Linked DNA regions of Homo sapiens: all the other regions are linked to region 2. Evidence: fine-mapped expression QTL. A gene starts in region 2. Each other region holds a variant in brackets. All regions are shown on one strand. Distances are from middle to middle. Region 1 has its middle 26 kb from the start of LINC01665. Region 2 holds the start of XKR3 (XK related 3). Region 3 has its middle 14 kb from the start of LINC01665.

Evidence for each region. PIP is the estimated chance that this variant, and not a neighbour inherited with it, causes the effect.
Region 1: its variant is the best candidate, but not a certain one, in a credible set for the expression of XKR3 in blood mononuclear cells (TOPMed, PIP 0.55).
Region 3: its variant is the best candidate, but not a certain one, in a credible set for the expression of XKR3 in neutrophils (Naranbhai 2015, PIP 0.63).

What each region holds. Positions count from the first base shown.
Region 1 is chr22:16,770,947-16,778,309 of GRCh38, forward strand. No RefSeq gene overlaps it. Among named protein-coding and RNA genes, the nearest start is that of LINC01665, 26 kb to the left of the region's middle. The variant A/T (reference allele first, on the strand shown) is at 3,460.
Region 2 is chr22:16,823,171-16,830,533 of GRCh38, forward strand. It overlaps XKR3 (XK related 3), which reads right to left and starts at 2,241. Exons shown (of 4, transcript NM_001386955.1): 1 at 2,121-2,241. It also overlaps the pseudogene HSFY1P1.
Region 3 is chr22:16,758,901-16,766,263 of GRCh38, forward strand. No RefSeq gene overlaps it. Among named protein-coding and RNA genes, the nearest start is that of LINC01665, 14 kb to the left of the region's middle. The variant C/CTAAA (reference allele first, on the strand shown) is at 3,174.

The DNA.
Region 1 (7,363 bases), 52 kb before region 2:
TATACAAAAATTAATTCAAGATGGATTAAAGACTTACATGTTAGACCTAAAACTATAAAAACCCTAGAAGAAAATCTAGGCAATACCATTCAGGACACAGGCATGGGCAAGGACTTCATGTCTAAAACACCAAAAGCAATGGCAACAAAAGGCAAACTTGACAAATGGGATCTAATTAAACTAAAGAGCTTCTGCACAGCAAAAGAAACTACCATCAGAGTGAACAGGCAACCTACAAAATGGGAGAAAATTTTTGCAACCTACTCATCTGACAAAGGGCTAATATCCAGAATCTACAAAGAACTCAAACAAATTTACAAGAAAAAAACAAACAATCCCATCAAAAAGTGGGCAAAGGACATGAACAGACAGACACTTCTCAAAAGAAGACATTTATGTAGCCAAAAAACACATGAAAAAATGCTCATCATCACTGGCCATCAGAGAAATGCAAATCAAAACCACAATGAGATACCATCTCACACCAGTTAGAATGGCAATCATTAAAAAGTCAGGAAACAACAGGTGCTGGAGAGGATGTGGAGAAATAGGAACATTTTTACACTGTTGGTGGGACTGTAAACTAGTTCAACCATTGTGGAAGTCAGTGTGGCGATTCCTCAGGGATCTAGAACTAGAAATACCATTTGACCCAGCCATCCCATTAGTGGGTATATACACAAAGGACTATAAATCACACTGCTATAAAGACACATGCACATGTATGTTTATTGCGGCAGTATTCACAATAGCAAAGACTTGGAAACAACCCAGATGTCCAACAACGATAGTCTGGGTTAAGAAAATGTGGCCCATATACACCATGGAATACTATGCAGCCATAAAAAATGATGAGTTCATGTCCTTTGTAGGGACATGGATGAAACTGGAAATCATCATTCTCAGCAAACTGTCGCAAGGACAAAAAACCAAACACCACATGTTCTCACTCATAGGTGGGAATTGAACAATGAGAACACAGGGACACAGGAAGGGGAACATCACACACCGGGGACTGTTGTGGGGTGGGGGGAGGGGGGAGGGATAACATTAGGAGGTATACCTAATGCTAAATGACGAGTTAATGGGTGCAGCATACCAACATGGCACATGGATACATATGTAACAAACCTGCACATTGTGCACATGTACCCTAAAACTTAAAGTATAATAATAATAAAAAAAATAAAAATAAAATGTTGATACCTAGTTATCCAGCTTCAGCTTACAAGGTTTGGGGAAAATTGGGCAGTTTTAGTTTTCAGTGATGCTAAACCATGAAAAGGGGGACACAATGTTGAAATTTTAGTTTACAGAGTTGTAGCTATATATTGAATAAAACAAGAACTGAAAAATGTAGACTAATAAAATTTGTAAAACATCTCACGTGGGTGTCCTCTAATTTTCCATTGAAACAAAATTCTCTCTGTGGTACTTCTCTTTACTCTTGTTCAGAAAATCAGTCTGGCCTTACTAGTTTTGGCATTATTTACCTGAGTGCAATAAGAATGGTCACTGACCACAAACACCTTTCTTTATTTCTTCATTTATTCATTATACACTTTTTAAATGAAAGACAGTGTCTGGCTCACTGCATTCTCAACCTCCTGGGCTCAAGTGGTCCTCCCACCTCAGCCTCCTGAGTAACTGAGACCATAGGAGCACACCATCATGGCTGGTTAATTTTGTGTTTTGTTTTGTTTGTTTGTTTGTATCTGGATATGGGGTTGCACCATGTTGTCTAGGCTAGTCGTGAATTCCTGGGCTCAAGTGCCTCTCCCACCTCAGCCTGTGAGAGTGCTGCGATTACAGGTGTGACCCACCTTCCTGGCCACAGAGGCCTTTCCAGTTTCATTTTTGAAAATTTCTGTAACTAGTCTCAGATTATATTTTTTGAAGCCTTGGGACTAGAAGCCAAGCCAGGAACTTGCCACCGACTTCCCTATCAGAACCTGTAGATTTGGTTGAATTCCACTCCTCTCAAAGTCTTCAAATATGGTGAGGTTCCAGAGCTTGCCCAGAAGTGACCTTTCTTATCTTGTAGGCTAGGAACTCTGTAACCAATTACCAGGTTGGTTTTTCCATGAAGGCTTTATAAGTATTGCCCCCACGGTCAACTTTAGTTCTTAATGCTACCTGGTTATATCTGATTCTATGGAAATCATTCTTAAACATATTTGATATTTCAGACAAGACTTGGTTATAAAACCACTTTCCACTTATGTTCTATGCAAATGCATTTTTACTAAACTGCAGAAATTTCTCTATTGTCATAAAAATCTTTATAAAATCTTAAATGTCCAGTGAGTATATCACAGCTCAATTACTACATTAGGAAATCCAATAAGTATACAAATCAAGTGTATTCCCTTTTTTCGTGTTTTTTGTTTGTTTGTTTGTTTGTTTGTTTGTTTTTTCTGACAGAGTCACCCTCTGTCATCCAGGCTGGATTGCAGTGGTGTGAGCTCAGCTCACTGCAGCCTCTGCCACCTGGGATCAAAAAATTGTCCTGCCTCAACCACCTGTGTAGCTAGGATTACAGGTGTGCACCACATTTCCTGGCTGACTTTTGTATTTCTAGTAAGGATGGCATTTCAACATCTTGGCCATGCTGGTCTGGTCTCCTGACTTCAGATGATCCACCTGCCTTGGTTTCCCAAAGTGCAGGGATTACAGGCGTTAGCCACCATGCCTGGCCCGCAAATGTATTCTTGCAGTTAATAATAACAATAACTTGTAATCTGTGGCTGTGTGCAATAAACTATTTTAAACTAATCTCATTTACTAAACATTTTCATGAGTCATGTGAACTTGATTGTCTATTTCTAGGATTTTTAGGAGTATGTAATTCACAATAATGCTCATTTATCTCTTAGCCAATTTGGATAGCACCCTTTTAAGTGATATTAAAAATTAACTTGGTACTAACATCCAGAGGTAGAAATATATCACACACAGTTCATCTATATGCTAAAAATATAGATAAAGGCAAGCAGATTTTATAGCCCTGACAAAATTTACCCATGAATAAAGCAATAGAGTAATATAAAACTCACTGGCTTATATCCATTTTATATTTTATCTAAATTGTGCTTCTAGCAAATGAGACAAGATTACCGATTCTATAGGAGACCTAATACCTAGCTGGAATTACAGGTGTGCACCACTATGCCAAGCTAAATTTTTGTATTCTTAGCAGAGACAGGGTTTCAGCATGTTGTCCAGGCTGGTCTTGAACTCCCGACTGCAAGTGATCCACCCACCTCAACCTCCCAAAGTGCTGGGATTACAGGCGTGAGCCACCATACCTAGCCCTAATAACCTGTTTTAGAGCTCACTCTAAAAATCACATTTGATTTTTTTGTTGTTTGATCTGTTTTGCTGGTGAGAGTCTCTTGAATTTTTCACTTCAGCCAATGTGTTTCTTAGTTCCAGGATTTTTTAAATTATTTCATTTTT[A/T]AAAATTTCTCTCAGAAGTTTATTAGTTCCTTTTCTGTCATTTTAGAGATCTGAATTTCCTGAAAACCGCCATTTTGAATTCTTGATTAGAGAACTCACTGATAGCCATCACATTATTTAGCACTGGTCAATGGTTTAGTGCTTTGTCCATTTGGGAAGATTATGATTCCTTGTTCGGTATTATTTCTAGTGGTTATACATCTATATCTTTTTATTGAAGGACTAGTTATTCAGTTCATTCTTTTCTCTGTATTATTTTGTGTTTTACTGAATATATTTGCGTTGAGGTTTTTTTAGACACACCTATGGTGGGTTTTTGTTTGCTTGCTTTCAGCTACGTCAGTTCCTTTGTTTTGACAGTAGATGGTGCCTTAAGCCAAGGTTTGCCTCAGCTCTAGCAAGCTTAGGATTGCTGCCAGTCCCCTATCAGAGAGATCCTGAAGGGGCTATGCTAACAGTGAGGGAAGGCTGGCTATAAGTTTGTGCCTAGGGAAATTATGAAATATACCTCCTACCTCATGGTACTGCTGCACAGGCACTCTGGTTTGGCATCTCCTATGGCTAAGATATCAAGGCTGGAGGTGGTAGTCCTGCCTTTCTGCCTTGTCCCTGGTTGTCCTCAGGAATTCTTCTTCTTTCAGGCATTCACAAGGCTTCCTGTGGGTTAAGACAGGAACAGGTTTCCTGCCAGGAAATCAAAAGTGGCTTGTGTTGTCCACTTCAACTTTATTTAATCCAGTGTAGTAAGCATGAGACAGAGGATTTTTTTTTTTTTTTACACTTCGTTGCCAGCAGACTAGGGGAAGAGTGTCATGAATATAAAAGCCAAACTTTCTTATCATCTGCCTGGTTTCTTCACTTCTCTGTCACCCTAGGAGCTGCCTCATCCTCATATTTGAGCTCTGAGTTATTGCTGGTGATAACCTATGCAATGTATATCGGTTTTTGGTTTCCTGTATGTGTTCTTGGGGGGAGGGGGAGCTAGGGTTGGTGGGGAAACATGCCAGCTTCCTTTACTATGTCATTTTTTTGTAAAAGTACTCTTCTCTAGTTTGCACTTTTTCTACTTCCTTGTGTGTGAATTGATAATTTTACATTTCTTCTTTATGTGTCTATGTTTGCAACTATATATTTCTCAGTATTGATTTTGCTGCATCCCAGAAGTTTCAATATGCTTTAATTTTCCATTTATCTGCAAGGATTCTTTAATTTCTTGCAGATTCTTCAATTAGCCATAGGTTGTTGAAGAGTGTATTGTTTAGTTTCCAAATATTATACATTTTTCAGTTTTTAGAAAATGGGGCTCAGGCGGTCACAGTGGCTCGTGCGTGTAATCCCAGCACTTTGGGAGGCTGAGGGGGATGGATCACTTGAGGTCAGGAGTTCAAGACCAGACTGATCAATATGGTGAAACTCCATCTCTACTAAAATTATAAAAATTAGCCAGGTGTGGTGGTGGGCACCTGTAGTCTCAGCTACTTGGGAGGCTGAGGCAGTAGAATCACTTGAACATGGAAGGCAGAGGTTGCAGTGAGCTGACATTGTGCCACTGCAGTCCAGCCTGCGTGACAGAGCAAAACTCCGTCTCAAAAAAAAAGAGGGGGGGCAGTCTCTAGTTTTATTCCACTGTGGTTGGAAAAAGCATTATGTGTGATTTCAATAGTTTTAAATATGAGACTTGCTTTGTGGCCTACCGTGAAGACTATTCTGGACCTATAAACCCTTTAGAAGAATATTTAATCCACTTGTGGAGTGGAGTGTTTTGTATATGTCTAATAGCCTCATTTGGTTTATAATGCTGTTTAAGACATTTGTTTTCTTATTGAACCTCTGTTTGGTTGTTTCATCCACTGTTGAAAGTGGGATGTTGAAATCACCAACTATTATTGCAGAACTGTCCACCTCTTCAAATCTGTTTGTCTTTGTTTCATATATCCTGCGGATCTTTTATTAGGTAAATATGTAAGGATAATATCTTTTTGATGAATTAAACATTCTTGATATTTGCATAGTACCTCTAGCTCTATTTTGGTTACTGTTTGAATTAATTTTCCCGTCCCTTTTAAAACATGTAAAAAGTCATTCTGTCAATCTTTGACTTTTAACTGGAGTTTAATTTATCTGCATTTAAGGTAATTACTGATAAGAAAGATTTTGCTATTTTTGTCCTTGTTTTCTACAAATTTGTTGTTGTTGTGGTTGTTATTCAATTCCTCCAAAAACTGCTCATTTTTACATTTGATTGTTTTTCTAGGGTACCATTTTGACTGTCTCATTTCTCTTTAGTATATTTTAACAGTTATTTTCTTAGTGGTCATTAAGGGTATTATAACTAATATCTTAAATTTATAATAATATAGTGTGAATTATAACAACTGTTTACATTATATAAAAATATTTTCCCATACTGCTGTCCCTCCATTCCTACGTTTTGTCAAAAATTGCTTCTTATTCAATATGTGCTAACAGCACAGATATATAATTCTTGTCTTATTATATGTCATTTCTTTATTTTATTATTTTATTTTACTTTACTGAGACATGGTTTCAATCATGCAGGCTAAACATGGTTCACTACAGCCTTGAGCTCCTGGCCTCAAGGGATCCTCCCACTTCCACCTCCCTTGTAGCTGGGGCTAGAGGTTCATGCCACCATACCTGGCTAATTTTATTTTCTGTAGAGACAGGGTCACACTTTGTTGCCCCGGCTGGTCTCAAACTCCTGGGCTCAACCAAACCTCCCACCTTGGTTGGGATTACAGATGTGAAATACTGTGCCTTACCACTTTTTAAATCTAGTAGAAAAATAAAGTCACAGAAACCCCCAAATACAATGGTATTGGCTTTTCTATTTCCTGGTGTAATTACTTTATTGATGTTATTTATTTATTTATTTGCACATGGGTTACTGTGTATTGTTCTTACATTCCTTACTTCATCATATTTTGTAAGGCCAATCTAATAGTGATGTACTCTCTTTAATTGTTTGCTTGGAAATGCCTTACTCATAAATTGAGAAATTGAGTTCGGTTTTGCCAGATATTGAGTTTATGACTGATTTATGTTTTCTTTCAGCCCTCTAAATATGTCACCCCAGTGACTTCTTTCCTCCATAAATTTTAATGAGAAATTGGCTGTTAATGTCATTGAGGATAACTTGCATGTGATCAGTTACTTCTGTCTTGCTTCTTTTAAAGTTCTCTATTAATTTATCTTTTGTCAATTTCAGTGTATGTGTTCCAGTGTAGATATCTTTGAGGTTATTCTTCTAGGAGTATTTTTTTTCTTCTGGGATTCTTGAATAAGTAAATTTGTATCTATCAGCACATTTGGGAAGTTTCAGCCATTGCTTCTTCAAATTATTTTTTTTATCTCTGTGTCTCCTTTTCCTGTGGGGCTCCCATTATGAATATGTTGATATACTTGATGTTGTTCCATGGCTACCTTAGTTTTATTCATTTTTCTTGTTTTTCTCTTCTTGTACCTTCCTTAGACTGAATAGCAAACAATCCGTCTTCAAGTTCCTTGATTATCCTTCCTGCATGCTCATGCATACTCTTCAGTCTTTCTAGTTACAGGGTATGAATTTCATTTTTAAAAATAATTTGTAGGTCTTTATTGGTATTTTCCATTTTTGAAACACTGTTGTCCTGGCTTCTCTTAGGTATTTGAGAACATTGAAGTCAAGTAAATTAAAATATTTGCCTAGTAAATACCACGGCTGGGATTCCTGAAGTACAGTTTCTTTTCATTATTTTCCCGTTGAGGGTGCCATTTTTTTGTCCTTTTGAATGCCTTGTATTTTATTGTTGAACAGTGAACACTTTAGAAATCATTCAGCATATCCAGAAAACATATTCCTGCCCTCCACAATTGCTTAGTTTTGGGGGTCATTTACTTGTTT
Region 2 (7,363 bases):
CCAGAATCCTGTCATTTCCTTGAATTGCAAAATTAAAACCTCATAAGCTACAGTTTCCACATCTGTACAATGATAACATCATTAGAATCTTCCTGGGGAGATAGCAGTGTAGAGAAAATAATACATCGGCAGCAGGAAGAAGAGTTCGTGGTACACAGTGAAGTTTGGAAAGGTGTTCCTATTGACATCATTATAATCATGACCACCATCATCATTTCTTAGAAACACAGAATTGACAGGACTCACTGATTAAGAGTATTTGACAGTGAAATATGAGAGAAGAGATTGCCTTGGTCAATTCTTGAGTATCCATCTGGTAGAGCTTGGAAAAGTGGTGGAAGCAGAATTTTTGGGAAAAACATTTAAAATAAACTTAAACACCTTACTTTTGATCTGCGTGATGTACAGAACTGGTGATGAACAGGGCAACCTTGTCACTTTAAAATATATCTGATTGCCAATTTGCAGCATCACAAGACTAGTAAACATTTACTGTGAAACATTCAGAAAATACAAATTACCAAAAGAATAGAGTTTACCTATTGCTTAGTTTTCTCCAGCAATGGAGAGATCAATAATAATAAATCTGACACCAATTCAAAATATGAAACTTTAGGGTACTCAAGTACTAAAAGGTTTTTTTTTTTTAATGTAAACAAACTCACAGGTAACAGTGTCCAAAGTAGAACATTAGAAATGAGAGATTCTTGATGTAACAACAGGTCCAGGTGATGATAATTCAAGGCTGCTGAAACAAGTGAATGAAATCTTGAAGGGATCTTAATGATGAGAACTAATTCTTGCTTGTTGGAGTGATGAGACAAATGGTCCAAAAATTAAAAAACAAAACAAAACAACAACAACAACAAAATAATTTGTTGCTTGCAAATAGGCCCTAGAAGCAATATGAAACAGTCTTCAAATGAATAGATGAGAAAAATCGCATCTGACCTAATTAATTCAATGTCACAAAAAGAGAGACAATGTGTTATTTAAAGGGATGAGACAGAAAAAACACTCTTGTAAATAAAGAGAGAAGAGTACAATGAAGTACCCATTTCCACCTACGAGGAACGGGCATGTAAGAAAATACGGGAATCATGTGCAGATGATATAATTACTTATCTAGAGGCACCATAAAAATGTTTTTCCCCAAATAATGTCCATTAGGGATAAAATTTTAAGAAAGAAAGGATGTTACTTTTAAAGACAATTGTTAAATACCTAGTAAATAGAGTAAGTGAGTAAGAAAAGCAGAAAGAAAATAAGTTGCAGCTACCAGATACCCACAAAAAGAAAGAAAAGGGAAAAAGAAGGAATGGAGGGAGAGAGCACAAATGGAAAGAAAAAGGGTGGGAAGGAGGAGGGAGAGTAGAGAGAGAAATTACAGAAGTAGGCGAGGGGTATAAAGGAAAGCATGGAAAGACAACTGCAGAGACATCAGAGTTTCTGGGCCTCAGGATAGGGGAAAAATACATCCAACATTATAAGAAATATATCCCACTCTCTCCCCAGCAATCCATACATCGAATATGATATTAATGCAGATTGCACCTTTCTGGCTGCCCCAACCACTTCCTTCTCCTTTGGACTCACAGAAGGACCTCTATAATTTATTTCTGGAAAACACTTATGAAAATATGCACATATGAAAAGGGCCACAGAGTTTAGAAATGGGTCTTCCAGAGTCTAAAATTCAAGGTAGAAAGTGAAAGTGAAGTCACTGAACAATGGAATTTAGGCATGTGTTTGTGATTAAGTGAACTTGTTTCTTGTACTCACATAGCCAGTGCATCACTGCATCTGAATAACAAAAAATATGGTAGATTTCTGCCCCTTTGAGATTTCACTTAAATACGAAGCACTTTCTCCTTCTGATGTTTAAAAACATGCTGAAATTTGTAATATATTAGTAACAACCACTGTCCCACCCAAATGCTAAGCAGCTGCTTCTCTTCTCTGAAAATCAGAATCAAGAGAGGGAGTTTCTAGGCTCAAGACTCGGGAAAAGCCACCCCTGATATCCAGAGATTTATGTTAAGATCCCCAGCTGAGACAGGCAGAGGTCAAGGTAGGCTGAAGAAGCTGATCTGAGATGGTCGAGGGCTGCTCCTACTTACCTTGCCTATTTGCCACCCTCACAGTTTTGAAACTCGTTCAAAAAGTAAATGCTTTTGTTCACCTCTTTAACAGCACCATTTCTGGTCTCGTTTTCAACACTACGTCCTTTGCTTTGCAGGTAAAATTGCTTATTTTCTTGCCTTTTTATGACTAAAGTAGGCTTGCAGTTTGGAGTCAGGTGACTGCACTAGCTGAGTCATCTTCCCTTGAAAACACCAAGGCATTCTTCCTCCCTACAGAGTCACACATCTTAGTTCCCCAAAACGCTCAGCCACAATTTGACTTCGATTGTCCTACATTTAAGGTGATATTTTTCTGATTCTCCCATTAACTCCCTCTTCTCTTCGCACCCATGGCCCATCTTTTGCTGCTGTCTAGTAGCCATTCATCCCCTCCCATCACAAAAGAAGTCTGTACTTCCTTCAGACAGAGCAACAAGAAAATTCCCCAGAAAGCAAACAATTAAACAAATTTTAATTTTGCCTTTTTTAAATGAAAATTCTGTCAAAATTGATGAACCACATCTGGTAGGAGCACCTGTTTTATTTTCACAAAGAGTTTTCTGATCTGGACATTTTTGTTACTTACTGCTAATATGGAAAATTTTGAACTAAACAAAATACACCCCCAAAACTTAAACTATGTTAAACCAAGACAAGCTTCTAACAATGACACCTCTTTCCAGTATGAGAGAACTGCCTCCTACAGTATAAGAAATATCAAAATCATTATTTTTTTATTCCACACATATTCAACACTTAAAGCCAAGGCATTAGAATTTTAATATACCACCTCTCAAGCATGAACATATAAAAATTCTTACTGTAAATGGGGCATGATTATTTTTCAAAGAGAAGAAATATTTTATTCAATTCTAAGATTAATTCACAAATTTGACTCCTGTTTTATAATGATAACTTTACGTTGCAGGACACAGAGATTATTCCTTAAGAAATATTTTTTAAATAGATATTTGGCTCTTGGAACCAAATAATAAAATTTTCTGCTTAGACATACATACAAATTTACTTTACTTAAAACACTTTCTTGTTATTATTACATTTTTAAATCTCCCACTCTTTGGGATCTCCTTATAAGTAGGTCACTTGCTTTTAAAATCTTACATAATTAACATGTCAGATATTTACAGACATACCAAATGAAAGTATTATTTATTCTATGATATGAATAAAAAATGTTTTGAATAGATACATACATGAATAACTTTTTATTCTGAAATCTAATCAGTTTTATTCATATTTGATTTTATTTTAATTTTTTAAGGTATGTTTCACATAATACAAAATTACATTATTCAAAATTATATTATTAAAACATTTCTATCATCAAACAGGAAACCCCATTATCTACTTAACAGTTCTTTCTATTCCCCAGCCCCTGACAACCATTAACCTACCTTTTGTCTATATGGCCATGTCTTTTTACCATATATGTTTTACACTGCATCAGTTTTCAATCCAACATGCCAAGCTGAGAGAGTTTTTAAAATATTTATTTTTATTTTTTTGCACCGTCCAATTACCAGGCCCTATGCTCCTCGCACCAATCTAGTAAGACTGTGTGTGTCAAGGAGAAAATTATGTTTATTTCAGGGATTGAGGATATTAATTAATTTATTTATTTATTTATTTATTTATTTATTTATTATTTTCTTAAGACAGAGTCTTGCTCTGTTGCCCAGGCTGGAGTGCAGTGGCACAATCTCAGCTCACTGCAGCTTCCGCCTCCTGGGTTCAAACGATTCTTCTGCCTCAGCCTCCCGAGACCTGGGACTACAGGCACATGGACCACACCTGGCTAATTTTTGTATTTTTAGTAGAGACAGGGTGTCACCATGGTGGTCAGGCTGGTCTCGAACTCATGACCTCATGATCCGCCTGTCCCGGCCTCCCAAAGCGCTGGGATTGCAGGCATGAGCCACCATGCCTGGCCCTCCTTATTAATTTAAAAGATTCTGCAGGCATGAAACTTTTGCAGAATAAACTGTGTAAGTAATCATTCTATATTTTATTTTTACCAGATACATTTCTGAGACTGGAAAGTAAACAGTCTTGGCCAAATTTTTATGTTTGTTGCTAGGTGACCAAAGTCCTCTTGTGATGCCATTGCTACTCAGGTTGGAAACCACTGTGGTGATCTCAATTACTTTACCTGAGTAGACTACTGAAGCAGCATTTGAAGCTGCAGTCTTGAAACACATGCAGGCTGGAAAAGTCGCTAAAGAATTACTTATTTGAGATGGCACATGTTTCTGCAGAAACTCAAGATGTTTCTCCTAAAGATGAATCAACTGGTTCAAAAGCCTCCTCTGGGTCTCCATTGTGTGAACACATAATCCCTGGGGATTCAGACTTAAGGTCAATGACTGAATCAATGATTTTCAGGTTTTGCCACAAGGATCCTTGATAAAAAGGCCACATTATACTTTATGTCTCTGAGCCAGATAAAGATAATGATTTTCCTTCTCTGACCTTTCCCAGTAAACTTTGGAAAATAGCTGAAAGTGACCAATTCAAGTCTAATTCATAGGATAAGAATGAAACTTGCATAGTGACTAATGAAGAACTCTTCAAGAAAGAAAATTTGGAAATAAAGGCTCCTTACAGAATATTTCAAACTGACAGTATGAAAATCTTAATTTGACAGCTCAACCTTTATGGATTTAGTAAAATTCAACAGAATTTTCACAGATCTGCTTTTCTAGCCAACTTTCTGGCAGAAGAAAAAGAAATTTCTGTTTTAAGCAAGGTATTCAAAATATTTCAGTTACCACTTTGAGTATATATGTAATTTCATTTTATATATCAGTAACTATGTTAATACATGCAGTAAGATCAGATTTTAAAAATTATATCAAATATTAAGGTAAAAATTACTTAATTTTTTTGAAATTATTGAGTGCAGGTTGAGCATTAAACTTTCAGGTTTTAAGAAATGTTGCTAACAACATTCAGTCTTACCAGTGAACTCCAAATAAAGATACCAAAGCCACTTAGTGAAATGTTACTATTAAATGTATAACATGTTTTCACCAGAGGGCTTCAAAACTTGAGTGTTTTTTTTTCTCAACAAGCATGTTCTTAAAAATAGTAAACAATGTTCATTCATTATTTGATGATATTAACTTTGTGTGATAAAACAGAAATCTGAGATTGTATGGGTTATGTTTGTTATTGTTACTTGCCTCTTGGTTTAAAATGGCACTGAATTACCTTCTCCTTGGTTTTAGTTAAAGTTGTATTATCATCCGAATTTCAAACGTGGCTGTCCCCAACTTTTAATAAGAACGAAAAGAAGAATTAAGATTAAAAACACTTCTCTTGTATCTACTTCACTGAATATTTCAAGAAACACTTTAGAGCAGGGGCTAACACAGATAAACATAATTCTGTCTTAGCTGCTGAAACTAGTGAAGAAAGTTCATTTTCAACATCTACAAATTTAAATATGACTCTAACAAGGAAATCTTCTGTCAGCCAGGGCATTGCTGGTTCACCTGACCCAATTAGAAGTGGTTTCCCTCCTCTTCCATTTCAACCTCAGTTGGACAATCAGAACAAATTACAACAAATCAACATGCTATTTTAAATCAATTGACAAATATTCATATGCACTCTCATAGCACCGACATGTAAGCAAATGGCCACGTTGTGAATTTTGTTACAACCACAGCTTCTCAATACTACATCATATCTCCCTCCTTTGGGGCTGATAGTGAAACCACCTACTTTTTCCCACCAGATATCCTGAGGTATTAGCCAATGAGGCTCCTCATTCTAACCTGCTACCAGCAGGCAACCTGTGGTTGTAAATGACTGCGACAGCTGATACATCAGTTGCCTTTCGTTACAGGCCAGCTCTTCAACCATCTTTACTGGAAAAATATCACCCTAGTTACAACTGATCTTCCACCAAAAGAGTACCAGATTATGCATGACAACAGAGACTGAAATTTATGTTGACAAGAACATTAAAAATTCCTGCAATAATCTTACTGAACAATAAAATTACATGTTGACCTTTATGGTTGCTTTTCCTTTATTTCTAAAAATACAGTTAGGAGTAAAATGGGGCTTTGTTTTAGTGGCAGGCTACTGTACCGCATTTAAAAAAAAATATGTGCTTTTTTATCATTTGATGGGAAATTTGACATGGCCCTTTGTAAGCTAGTTTATTTAATTATCTAAAGAGGAAGAAATAATAGAGTGTTTTAGTCCATTTGCTGCTGCGACAACACAATACCACTGACTGGGTAATTTGTAAGGTGACTTATTTTGCTCATTATTCTGAAGGCTGGAAAGTCCAAGGGGCTGCATCTGGTGAGATCTTCTTTCTATGTTGCAACATGGCAGGAGGCCATCCTACGGTAAAGGACATGTGATAAACAGAAAATCAGGGCCAAACTCATCCTTGGTTCCAAAGCCCACTCACACAATAACTAGCCTGTTCGCCAGATAATGCTATCAATCCCGCCATGAGGGTGCACACTCACGATTTTATGGTTTCTAAGTCCACAGTCAACGTTGGCTAATTCACATACATATGTTTATATATCAAAACCATGGCAGCAGGCAAGGGAAAAAGAAGGAATTGGAGTTAGAAAAGAGTAATAACTGACTTCTCAAGTAGTCTGGCATAAATCAAATGAGGGCCTAAATTACAATGGCACAAAAAGAATAGATATGCACACACACACGCACACACAGAAAATCTAGAGAAACATTAACACACACTATATACTTCAGTATTTTCTCACTTTTTCTCAGTTATTTTAAACTTGGATTTTAGTTGGCAAAGATTTTCTTCATTACAATTCATACCTAGCGAGCTCAGTAACCATGATCACAATTATTTGTGTCCTCACTTGCGCAATAAACTTCACATATTTTACTCATGGATTGTATCACTGTAGGCACATGGTAGAATTTTATAGCTGGCATTATCAATAGACCTTTTTGATCTTCCATCAAAGCTTGTGGCTTTAATTACTTCCTGTAAGAGTCCACCTTTCATGTTTTCTAATGCACATTTTCCTTCTTTTCTTTTGAGACAGAGTCTTGCTGTGTTGCCCAGGTTGGAGTGCAGTGGCATAATCTCAGCTCACTGCATCCTCAACCTCTGAGTTCAAGCAATTCTGTGCCTTAACCTCCTGAGTAGGTAGGATTAGATGTGCACCCACACCGTGCAAAATTTTGTATGTTTAGTAGAGATGGGGTTTCAC
Region 3 (7,363 bases), 64 kb before region 2:
CAAGACCATCCACCAGCAAAATGATTATGACTTGCTGAAGGCCCAGATGATGGTTAGCATTTTTTGGCAATCAAGTATTTTCAAAGTAACGTACATACATTATATTTTAAACATAATGCTATTGCACACTAATTGACTACAGTAGTTTAAACACAACTTTCTTTTTTGAGATGGAGTCTCACTCTGTTGCCCAGGTTGGAGTGCAGTGGTGTGATCTTGTCTCACTGCAAACTCTGCTTCCCAGGTTCAAACAATTCTCCTGCCTCAGCCTCTTGAGTAGCTAGGAATACAGGCGCTCACCACCATTTTTGTATTTTCACAGGGTTTCCCCATGTTGGCCAGGCTGATCTCAAACTTCTGGCCTCTGGTGATCCACTCGCCTCGGCCTCCCAATGTGCTGGGATTACAGGCGTGAGCCACCATGCCCGGCAACATAACTTTTATATGCACCAGAAAGCAAAAAATTTCTTGTGACTTGCTCTATTGTGATATTCGCCTTATTGTGGTGACCTAGAACCAAACCTGCAATATCTCCAAGGTGTGCCTGTACCCCTGAAAGCAGAGCTGGAGTAAAGACTTGGGTGTGGATGGTTTATTTGGGAAGTGATTCCAAGAAGCAAGAGTGAGATGTGGGAAGAGTGAGCCAGGCAAGAAAAAAAAAGCCAAAATAATGAAATGCCATTGAGGCTGCTCCCATGGACTTTTTTTATGCGGGACCTACCGAGAGGCTCTGGAAAGTTATCCAGGACTGTCCACCTGAAACGTGAGCCTCGAGCATTTGCCCACCTGTCCCACACGGGTTGAGGTCTTCCCCTGAGGCTGTTAACCTGCAAGTGTTTCTGGGCTGTATTTGTGCTTAGGCAAAATCCTACAATAGTGGAGATGTCCCGGGGCGGAAAGTGTAGCTTGAGTTTGCTGGCAGCACAAGGGAAGCCTGTGCTTCCATGGAACTCCCCACGGTGGCTGAGACTGAATGAAAGGTGCGCTGAGAAGACCTGACGCAGTCGTCATTGCACGGAGGAATCGCAGCCATCGATCTTGGCAAGAGGACCCCCGCCCTGAATCCTGCGCTTGAGAGGGTGCCTCTCTGGCCCTCCACTGACTGTAACCCGGCCCACCCAGAGCTCTCACCCTCTGTTCTAGGGCACACGCTGGGCACTCAGGCCCCTGGCCAAATGTACCTGAGCCTGCATGGCCTCTTCCCTGGGTCCATTTCAAAGTGAAAACTGTGCTTGTTGAAATGGTGCCCAAGGCTCTGCTGTCTGAAGGGGTGAGAATTGTGGATGGAGCTTGTATGGGGCCTAGGGAGTCCCCCACACAGGGGTACGCAAGGCTTCTCAAGTAAGGACAGGGCTAGCTACGATGAAAGAAAAAAGTTTAGCCTGGGGCTGAAGATCAGCTCTCCCTTTGCTACCACATTCTCTGGCAGAGCACCAAGGAATCAGAGAATTCTACACTCGACTTCGACCTTGTGGGTTATTACGGTGGTATATTTATTGAAGTAGAAGAATAGAACATATTTAGCTATTTTTTAACTTCATTTATAATTCGTAATTATTTAGACATAATGCAAATATGGGCTGGAATTCATGTTCTGATTTTTGTGGCCTTGAGCTAAGGAAAAGGGACCCAGGGAAATGTGGCTTTATACGCTTAGATGACTTCATGGAATCCCCAACTTCATTAGCTTCTATGATGACTCAACATTGTTACTAAAATTCACTTTGTATTATCTTTAAAAACCAAGGGATATTATGTAGCTCAGCGGTTAGAAGGCACTTGACTCAGAATATCTATGAACCAAAGGATATAAATGACTAAGAGCAGGAGGATCATTACCTGAAGGGGTGGAGGGTTGATCTCAGGATATGACCTGTGAGATCCTTCCTGCTGGCTCAGTGCTGACTGAACGTGGGGCAGGAGAGTCCCAGGAGCAACACATATCTGGGATAGGAGGGAATGTGGGGAGGAAGGAAAGAGAAATAGGCCCTTTTTGTTTTTATTGATACAATTATAATTATTTCTAGGGTACATGTGATATTTTGATACATGCATACAATGTGTAGTGATCAAATCAGGATAATTTGCATATCCATCACCTCAACCATTTATCATTTATTTGTGTTGAGAACATTCCACATCTTTCCTCTAGTCATTTTGAAATATATGTTATTGTTAATGATCGTCACCCTACTGTGCTATTGAACACTAGAAATTCTTCTGTTCATTCCATCTAACTGTATTTTTGTGCCCATTAACCAACTTCTGGGATGGGTAAAAGAGTGAGTGGATGAAAAGGGCCCTTTTTAAGGAAAAGTAAATTTTACGAGAAGGGAAGACATTTTAGGAGGAAAAATAAAATGGTGGACCATGGGCTTAGTGTGGGGACTGCAGAAATCGAATGGCAAAGAGAAAAAACCAACTTAGCGATGTGAAAATACATCTCAATGTCATTCCTTTCACAGGTCCAATGTCTGATATTCTTTTGGGAAGCTGGATAGGAGGTAGGAATCTTCCTTTGAGTCATATATTTTTATGATTATGATTGTTATTGAACGATAGCTGACAATTATTGAGAGCAATTATTGAGGACAATTATTGAGCTTTGACAAGCTCTTTTCAAAGGCCTTTACATATATTTTCTCCATTTCTAACTGTTAGATATTCTTATTATTCCCATTTTGTAGATGAGGGATGCACAGGCATAAATCCTATGTGGAGGCAGAGAGCAGCTAAGTAACCTGACCATGGCCCAACAGCAAACAAATGATGGGGCCACATGCAAATCCAGGCAGAACCCTTCTATTATATGAAGCTCAATGTTTTCTTGTTTCCATCTTGTTATGAAAACACCTATTTGCAAAGGGGTTTTGAAGCTACTTTAAAGCATTTTGTGGCTGTGTGTGGTGGCTGACACCTGTAATCCCAGCATTTTGGGAGACCAAGGTGGGTAGATTGCCTGAGCTCATGAGTTTGAGACCAGCCTGGCCAACATGGTGAAACCCTGTGTCTACTAAAAATACAAAAAAATTAGCATGTTGGTGTGCACCTGTAATCCCAGCTACTCTGGAGACTGAGGCAGGAGAATCGCTTGAACCCAGGAGACAAAGGTTGCAGTAAGCTGAGATCGCACCACTGCACTCCAGCCTTGGCAACAGAGTGAGACACTGTCT[C/CTAAA]TAAATAAATAAATAAATAAATAAGATTGAATTTTGAGCTCCTGACCATGTCCCTAGATTGTACTCATACATATTTTGATGTCTAATAAGATTTATTCTTAGTGCATTTTTTAAGTTAAAGTATTTACTGAGCATCTATTGTATATCATGAGCTGAGATAGGCATCAGCGGTGCAGGGAACATATGGCACAGTCTCTGCCCTCAAGTAAATTTCACTCACCACACATATTTATTAGGACTGATACATGTGTGAATATAAGATAGTATGATAGGCATTGCAACAAATAATTATTTACTGTAAACCTATTTTATAAGATTTTAAACTTAAAGTACTTTCATGCTATTTCCAAAAAAAGTATTGCATAACTTTAAATGGATTCTCAGTTTGAAATCATCATACAAACTGCAGTAGCATCTGCTGGTGAAATACTGCTTTGTATCTATTAGAATAGTCCAAACAACTGGGAGAGAACTGCATTATTAGAGCTGTAAAAGTTATCGTCTAGAAATCTCAGTAAAGAAGAGGAAGTTCTATGGTAGATGAATAAGATGACACCTAAACTGTTGTCTTAAGCTACTGAAGTTCTGTGGATATCTCACAGCACAAAGTTCAAGTGTATGCCCACAACTCCTCATGCCACAAGATGTGACACCTTTCCAAACTCTTTTTGCAAAAGTTTCCAGTTATGTCTCTTATTAGAGTACTTTTTATACCCACGTATTCCAGATTTTGTAGTGCACGCAAAGAAAAGTTGGGAAGGGGCTTCCATTTGTTGATGCCAGCTACTCGTTCTATGGACCAGGCCCTTGCCCATGCATCAGGGTTGGTTCTTTTGTCCCCACATCAGCCATAGCCCATAGGCATTAACCTCCATTGTACAGACGAGGAAATTGAAACTCTAAGAGAATATGCAATCAACCCAGAGTCAGGCAGCTTGTGTATGTAAGGGTTGGAATGAAAATCCGTGTGAGTCCCAAGTCCCCTTCTACCATATGGTTTCCATTTCATTTTGCAATCACCTTGGCTGGGATATGTCTGCCCTAAAAGATAGTAAGTAGGAATACTTGTCTCTATACCTTAACCTAACATCCATGGGCTTGCTTTTTGTATTTGGAGGTGCCATAATATTATAATGATAATTTGATTTTATTTGAACAGTGAATATTATACTACTCAGTCTAGACATTTATGACATCCCAGTCTAAACTGGATGATAGCAATGAAGCTTCTTCAAGGAGACAAGTATGAGTAATAAGGTAGAAATAAGTTGAATTTCTATGGAGTTGCTACTTCTGAATTTAAAACTAGTTGAGGTTAAGTAGACATTCAAAAAGATCGCTATAATCTTCACTTGAATAATATAAACATTTCTTATTTTTTATATATTTATTTATGGAACATAGATGTAATTTTAAAACAGAATTTTTGCAAACTGTATTAAAATATATTAAAAACTTAATACATTATGACCCAATAGAGTTTTTCAAAGTAACTCAGTGTTAGTTTAAAATGTGAAATTCAATCAGTATAATTCACCATAGAATACAGTGTGTATGTCAGTATAATATATATCAAAATTGGAAAGAAGTAACTTTATCCTTGTTTTTTAATAAGATGAAATTACAATCTTAAGGAATTTCAACTTTCATTTTAGATTCTGGAGGGTACCTGTGCAGGTTTATTACATGGGTATATTGCGTGATGCTGAGATTTGGGGTATGAATGAAGGTGTGAGTGCCTGTCTTGAACTTGCACCCAGAGCAACCTCCGCTCATCAGCAGAGGGTAAACTAACTTGAATTACACTTGAATTTTTTAGGAGAGCAGGTCACAAAGGGCAAATTGTGGTCCAGAGACAAAAGTGCTCGAAGGTCTAAAACGAGCCTGCCATATCACTGAGGGTACAGGTCTTCACACAAATATATTTCAGAAAGGGGTCAAACCCTTGTTTAAAGATAAATGTAAGCTGGGTGTGGAGGCACACGTCTATAATTCCAGCTACTCAGGAGGCTGAGGCAGGTGGATCCCTTGAGTTCAGGAGTTTTAGACCAGTCTGGACAACATAGGAAGATCCCATTTCAATTTTTAAAAATCAGAAAAAAAATAGATAAACTTAAGCATATTAAAATTTAAAAGAGTTTATTTGAGCAAACAGAGATTCATGGATCAGGCAGCTCCAAACTGAAAGTGGCTGGAGGATCTACTGGAGGTGTTTGTAGGGAAGGCTTTCATAGGGTGAATACAGAAGTAGAGTAGAGAAATTATTTGATTGGCAAAAAATTGGGCAGTTGCATTATTTGAACTATCCTGGTGGTAGGTCTCTCATTACACAGCTAACACTCAGCAGGCCACTTTTTGATGGGCTAAGCTTTTTACAGGTTGTTGACGGGTTCCTTTTGTCTATGTAGGAACCCAGGCCATGGGAGCTATCTCAGCCTAATGCTCTCCCATTAAGTTATTTTACACCTTCTCTCTGTATCAGGGTAAGCAGGGGTCTTCCCCACGAGGGTTCTTACCACCCTGTTTCCCTCAGCAAAATGAAACTGTCCCTTTTGCCTCTGTAGGCAATCTTCTGAACAAGGCTTTCCTAATATTCTTATGTCATCTTATTTTAACTTATCCTCTTCTCTGTACCTTGTTTACATGCTTCTGGAACACTTGTGTGTCTTGTACCCATCCCCTGCATTATTTAGTCAATCCTAAAAGAAGACCTCTAGGATGGATTGGTAGAGAACTGCTGGCATATTGAGCCCTCTCTCTTTGTATCTGGAACTTTCATAATTACCTTAGTTCTCCATGCCAATTTTGCAATTATCTTTGTTCTCCACTTCAAAATACATTTATCTCTAACAGAAGCTAAGTACATAAAAGGGACCTTGTCCAGTGGTACTTATGAGGCAGGAGATGTGATATATTTAAAATTATAAACTAAAAGCTTTCTGACACCAAAAGCATAAGTAACAAAACAAAAAATAAGTAAATTGGACATCATCAAAATTTAAAACTTTTGTGCAATCAGAGGACAACCGGCAGAATGGAAGAAAATATTTTAAATAATATCTTTGATAAGGGATCAATATCCAGAATATATAAAGAACTCCTACAACTCAGCAATAAAGAAACAACCCAATTAAAAAATAGGCAAAGGACTTACATAGAAATTTTCCCAAAAAAGATATACAACTTGCCATCAAGCCCATGAAAGACGCTCAACATCACTGATTACTAAGGAAAAGCAAATCAAAACCATAATAAGATACCACTTCATACCCATTAAGATGGCAATCATCAAAAAACCAGGGAATAATAAGTGTTGGTGAGGATGTAGCCAAATTGAAACTCTTGTGAATTGCCAGTGGATTCTACAGTGGTATAGTCATGGTGGAAAAGAGTACAGCGGTTCCTAAATTAAAAAAAAAAAAATGGAACATAGGCTGGGCTCAGTGGCTCATGCTTGTAATCCCAGCACTTTAGGACACCAAGGTGGCCAGATCACGAGGTCAGGAGTTCAAGACCAGCCTGACCAACATGGTGAAACCCCATCTCAACTAAAAATACAAAAATTAGCTGGGCATGGTGCTGTGTGCCTATAATCCCAGATACTCAGGAGGCTGAGGCAGCAGAACCCCTTGAACCTGGGAGGTGGGGGTCGCAGTGAGCCAAGATCACACCACTGCACTCCAGCCTGGGTGACAGAGCCAGACTCCATCTCAAATAAATAAATAAATAAATAAATAAATAAATAAAAATGAAACATAGAATTACCATATGAGTCAGCAAGTCCACTTCTGGGTTTAAACCCACAAGACTTGAAAGCAGGGACTTCAACAGATATTTGCAAATTCATGTGCATAGTAACATTATTCATGATAGCCAAAAGGTGGAAGCATTCATTGACAGAGGAATGGATAAACAAAATGTGGTACAGATATACAGTGGAATATTACTTAGCCTTAAAAAGGGACATTCTGATGCATGTTACAACATGGATGGACTTTGACATAATGCTAAGTGAAAGAAGCTGGATACAAAAAACTAATACTGCCTGATTCCACTTATATGAGATATCTAGCATGTAATATTCATAGAAACCAAAAGTAGAATGATGCTTCCCAGTTACTGGGAGAAGAGATTAAGGAAGGGCTATTGCTTAAAGAATGCAGAGTTTCAGTCTGGGAAATCAAAAAAGA